2 separate regions of the Homo sapiens genome follow, and region 2 is linked to region 1. The links come from fine-mapping of genetic effects on plasma protein levels. A gene starts in region 1. The other region holds a variant in brackets. All regions are shown on one strand. Distances are from middle to middle.

The links. PIP is the chance, under the fine-mapping model, that this variant and not a neighbour inherited with it causes the effect. The UK Biobank Pharma Proteomics Project read protein levels with antibody pairs (Olink). The fine-mapping took linkage between variants from a reference panel, not from the people measured, so its PIPs are less certain.
Region 2: its variant is fine-mapped to the plasma level of the CRADD protein (UK Biobank, PIP above 0.99). The variant lies in the coding sequence of CRADD. If it changes the protein, the assay may bind it differently, which can mimic a change of level.

What each region holds. Positions count from the first base shown.
Region 1 is chr12:93,675,817-93,678,734 of GRCh38, forward strand. CRADD (CARD and death domain containing adaptor protein) reads left to right here and starts at 1,559. Exons shown (of 3, transcript NM_003805.5): 1 at 1,559-1,656. RefSeq lists enhancers at 800-1,615, 1,404-1,643, 1,616-2,430.
Region 2 is chr12:93,848,219-93,851,136 of GRCh38, forward strand. CRADD (CARD and death domain containing adaptor protein) reads left to right here. Exons shown (of 3, transcript NM_003805.5): 3 at 1,752-2,538. The coding sequence ends at 2,053. Among named protein-coding and RNA genes, the nearest start is that of CRADD-AS1, 110 kb to the left of the region's middle. RefSeq lists an enhancer at 742-841. The variant C/T (reference allele first, on the strand shown) is at 1,859.

The sequences.
Region 1 (2,918 bases):
ATTGTGCAAACAAAATAGGATGTACTTATGCAAACCTAGATGGTATAGCCTACTACATACTTAGGCCATATAGCATAGCCTATTGCTCTGACCACCATCATATATGCAGTCTGTCATTGACCCAAATATTGTTATGCAATGCATGACTGTAATAATAATAATACTTGCCACATAGGTAAAAATACTGTCATTAACGGTGTAGTAAAATGGTAACTGGCATAGTAATGCTGTAAATTGAATACAATTTTTAGAAGGTTTTGAGGAGGGAGGTTCAGAACTGTTCTCCATTGATTTGCTTAACAAAGATATTTTCATTTTCCACCAAAGGGTTTGGCTGTGAAAACCTTTGCAGAAATAATATTTTAGGAGTTTTTTCCCCCTGTACTGTCAACTGATTTTTAGTAAGCATATGACTTTCTGTATGTATCATCCAATTGATTTAAAAATGAATCAATGAATGTATTTATTGATCGCCTGCCTCGCTTCACAAAGGAATGTGAGGAAGGACACCCAATTTGGCATTGCTGTGTTTCTCTGTATTTGGGTCATGCATTTTTTCTTGCTTTCCACATTGAAAATGTGGTGGATGCAGTAGATTGGCTTTAAGTGTCAGGCCTTCCCTCATTTACTATACCTTTTTGTGTTTCACAAGCTGGAAAGCTACCAACTACATGCTCTAGACATCCTTGCTGCTAATATTCTGCATGTCAGATTGGTCTCACCAATGGCACGCAGCAAAGCAAGATTTGCAGGTGCTGTTTTCTTGCTGCTGGCAAATGCAGCCGTGGAGACCACCGTTTTTTGCAGCACTGTTCCAGTGTCCTGTTAATTGTTCTGTCGGTGTTGAGAGGAGGTTGGGGACCAGGCATGGCAACTTCCTGACGCCATCTTCCTGATTGTGGGCAGCAGCCACAATCAGCAATCTTATCTAGGTAGTCATCCATGGATGTTCAGCTCAGCCCTTCTCCAGCCTTTCCAATGATTTCGAATGTCCCCAATTCCCCCTAACGAATCCCTTTCTGACTAGGAGTAACTAGCTGAGTGCTGCAATGAAATCCTGACTGACAGATTTGTAAACTCTTTGCGGGCAGGAACCCTTGATATAAATAAATGACCTTGCATTTTAATGGAGGGAAGCAGAAGGATAAACAAATGAATAAGTGAAAAGTTTTAATAAGATGGTGATGCGTAAAAAATAAAGCTGGTTAATGGGGAGTGCAGGAAATGAGCGCAGCTGTCTTGCCGTTTTAATCAGATAGGTCAGAGAAGGCTTCTCTACTAGGGTGGCTTTTGACCTGCCTCTCTGTTAGGTCAATTGTGTGCGAGGCCCTGATGGAGTTACTGTGTTAAAATGCAATGATTCAATTACTCCATTACTTAGATACCCTTTAAGTGACACTACGGTTGTCCATCTCCCCGCTATTGAATTGTTTACCCACAGTAAGCATGGCGGGAAGAGCTTCGATCCGACCCTTGAACGCTCAATAAAAATGGCGACAGCACTTCCTGTACTTGCCCTCAACAAAGATGGTGTCAACACTTCCTGTTTAGGGTTTTCGCCATTAACAAAGATGGTGCTTATGGGGCAGGTTCCCTAACAGTCAGGATTCCGGTTGCAGTTTTTCTCCCCCGCCCCAAAGATACGTGGTTGCAGACGTAAGTAACAGGAATCCATCTTTCTTTGAAAGTCCTGCATTGTAGCGTCTGCGACCTGGGCCCTGCGGGGGCTTCCCCGCCCCGCTAACTTGCTCCGCATTTCCGATCCGGGCCAAGGCTGGGTGGCTGCGGCAGTGCCGGAGGCCCGCTCTCCCCTTGGTCCGCTCTTTAGTTCATTCCCAGCACTCCCTCTTTAGCGGGTCAAGTTGCCGCAGAAACCGCCCGTAGTCTTCCTGTTTGATACAAGGGTTTCAGCGGCCGAAGCAGAGCCTTTTTAAATAGTTCCCAATGGGCGCTCACGGCCAAACGTGAACACCTCCCCTCCTCACCTGTCACCTCCTGAACTTTACAGGGTTGCGAGGGGGAGTGTGGGATCGGGTGTCGCCTAGCCGTGGTCGTACTGCCCGGGTGTGTCTGAAGCCCCATCTGTCATCCCTGCCTGCCTTCCCGGTCACTTAACCTTCACTGCCTTACACACAACCAAGCCACAGCACACTGGTGCAGGGGTGGTGGAACTGCACCTTCAAATCGTGCCTGGCTACTGACCAGTGCTGGGGTGTGTGCTTTTTTTGAAAGAAAAAAATCCCATAAAATGTCCCATGCATGTGCGGCCACGACAGTGTTGTGCTGGAGATTCGGAATTCTTAGTGGGAAGGAATGGAGTCTGTGACTGTATATTGTGTAAAGTTTATTGTAGACTGGGCACAAACAACAATTTTCTTAAAGGTGATCGTGTAGAGGACTTTTAGCGAAAAGAGCCTTAAATTCTGAACCTGCTGATTTCTGTCCTGCACTCCTATTACTGATCAGGTTTTGCAAATACTTGTGATCAAAAAAAGGGGACCTGCGTCCACCTTGGCAGTTTCTGCCTTGGTGGTGGTGGTGCAGGTCTGATGAGGGCAATGTGAAAATAAAACCACCATTTCTTCTCCAGCGTGTTAAAATTAGTGCTGCTCTGTAATCTTCAGATAAAAATTGCTTGTTCAGAAGGGTCTCTGACCCACTTTTTTTTTTTCTTTTTCCAAATTTCTTTATTGAACGAGGAATTGAGCTGGGACCCCATTGTGTGAAAAGCAGAAACAGAAAAGATGATTCATCTTCATTGTTGTTCATTATGTTAGGAAACATTCAAAATTAACCTGGCTTGGCTTAATCAGTGAATTAAATACCATGACCTGGCAGTCTGCTATGGTTTAAAGATGTGCTTGACCTGAAGGAACTTACATTGCAGTGACACTGTCTTTAGGGCCACATCAACATGT
Region 2 (2,918 bases), 170 kb after region 1:
ATCAGTAGTGTCATCAGTATTCTAATTGCGTCATAGTCATTGTTTTTTAAATTGTAGTGTTGACAAACACCAGAAAGAGCCCTTGACAATATTTTTGCAACTCATCTCTAAGGTGCTGGCCGCTGCCCAGAGGCCAAAGACATGGGCTGTGGAAAACATCAGCTCTTGTAATAAGGTGCCTTTGCCTTCTTATTGAATCATAAATCAAAACACAATAGTGGACTGATGAGCATGAAGTAGACTGACCTGAATCCCTGTGATGCTGATGGATGGGAGTATAGTGTACTGTGCTGTCAAACAAATGTCTGAACCTAGCAAATGACTTTGGATGTTTGGAGTCCGTCTCAATCTCTGCACTTGGCTGCTGTGAGTGCCTTTCACTTCCTCCATTGCGATTCTCCTGCCTCTGGGCCTTTGCACATGCAATTCTCTCTTCTCGAGATGCGCCACGCCCTGTTCCTCCTTCATCACCCAGCTCCTCCTCCTAGTGTTCAGGGCTTAGCTTTAGCCTCCTTCCCCTGGAAGGCCTTCCCTAATGAAGTTAGGAGCTCCTCTGTATAACCAAAGGCACTGCTCACTGGTTTTGCTGGGCACATTTATAACCATTCACTCAATGTCATGCTTCTTAGCAGACTGGCCTCAGGCAAATAAGAATCTAGTTCAGGAAGTGTAAGGTCAGATTTCCTCGTTGCCCCGTCTCATACTTCCTGTTCCTCTTCTGGGCTCTGCCAGAACGGTAACTCCACTCTTGTGGCCTCTGCTATGAACAAACCCCGCTCTCTTCCCTTCCTGCTACCCTATGGCCTCTTAGGTTTATTTTGTTCTCAGCAGCCCTCTTGGCTCTGGCTTCTGTTAGCAGCTACACGTTTTCTCGGTAATATTTCAAGTTCAACCTCATCGGCGAGGGTAGCTGTTTGGTTTAGCCTTTGTCCTCTAGCACGTGCCTTTCCTGCAGGGAGGGGCATTCCCAGCCTTGGAACAGGCCCCATCACTAAGGCCACAGACAGTGCCAGAGGGAGCTGGGGTCTGTGCAGCCATTCTTGAATTCCCCCAGAATGCCTTGCCTGGCCTTGAGTAAAAGGGATAGAAGTGAAAAAAGCCTGTTACAAAGCAGCATGTACGAGGTAACCCTTCATGTGTGTTTTATATATCAAAGAAAATAGACTAGTTATTATCAATGAGTTTTTCTGGTGGGATTTCTAGTTATTTTTATTTTGTTGCTTTCAAAGTTTCTGTAACAGGCAGGGTGCTGTGGCTCACGCCTGTAATCCTAGCACTTTGGGAGGCCAAGGCAGGTGGATCACCTGAGGTCAGGAGTTCAAGACCAGCCTGGCCAACATGGTGAAACCCTGTCTCTGCTAAAAATACAAAAATTAGCTGGGCATGGTGGCAGTTGCCTGTAATCCCAGCTACTTGGGAGGCTGAAACAGGAGAATCACTTCAACCCAGGAGGTGGAGTTTGTAGTGAGCCAACATCATGCCATTGCTCTCCAGCCTGGGTGACAGAGTGAAACACCGTCTCAAAAAAAAAAAAAAAAAAAGTTTCTGTAAAAACATTTTCACAGATACTTAACAGCATTGAAGCCCTGAATCATGGCGTTGTACAGAGCAGCCCCCAGGAAGAAGACAAGAGCCAATTGGCTCTGCCATTTGGAAGCATTGCCTTCTTCTCCCCACGATTCTCATTTCTGCCCCCAAATGATGTGTTTGTTGCCTTGCTCATTTCACCGGGGTGTCTTTTTCCTCCTCAGGTGACAGATTGACTGGGATCCCCTCGCACATCCTCAACAGCTCCCCATCAGACCGGCAGATTAACCAGCTGGCCCAGAGGCTGGGCCCTGAGTGGGAGCCCATGGTG[C/T]TGTCTCTGGGACTGTCCCAGACGGATATCTACCGCTGTAAGGCCAACCACCCCCACAACGTGCAGTCGCAGGTGGTGGAGGCCTTCATCCGTTGGCGGCAGCGCTTCGGGAAGCAGGCCACCTTCCAGAGCCTGCACAACGGGCTGCGGGCTGTGGAGGTGGACCCCTCGCTGCTCCTGCACATGTTGGAGTGATGGTGCCTCCAGCAACCGCTGGGGAGTGTGTCCCTGAGTCATGTGGGCTGAATCCTGACTTTCACTCAGAGCAGGTGGTTTTTTGTGTAGGTTTGTTTTTTATTTTTGATGATCTTCAGATGGAAGGAGAAAACAGGGTTTCCACTAGACATTACTTGAAAGGCCAGATTACTCAGCAGATCTCCCATGTTGGCTCAACAATTCTTTGTTTTTAATTGCTTGAAGATTGCATTGTTGTAATTGTTCAGTTTTTAAATGTGTAATGGCATTTTAATAGACTAGTAAATCACAGTGGTTCAAAATATATATCCATATATATATATATCCATATATATATCTCATGTCATCACATTACAGGCAGGTGTCTCATATGTAAAACATTTACCTGAATGTTGTCTGAGGACTGAACTGTGGACTTTACTATTCATAATGATAAAATAATAAAATGCGAATTACTATATATAATGTGCCTCACTCATGAGAAAGTACCGTGTTGGGTTTTTTTTTTTCTTTCTCATTCCTGTGTTGCATAGATTAAGGGTGTAAAATTACAATAGTCTTTTTTTTCTTTTTGGAACAGAATTAATAGTAACAGTGAAATGGTTACTTTCCCAAGTCAGGATAAATAGCTCAGGCAGGATGTCTGTATTAAATATTGTAAGACACTAAAGCTCCCTGCAAAGACCAGTTCAAGGACCAGCATGCATACCCGAGCCCTTCATCTTTAAAAGATCGCTCGAGAAAATCCTGTGCTGTTTATTGAAAGCATTAAGTCAGGGGACGAGAGGGGGTGTGGTCTTTCCATTGAAGCCAGAATGACTGAAGTGTTGTGCTCCTAAGGAGTATGATTTAGTCTTCTGTCCTT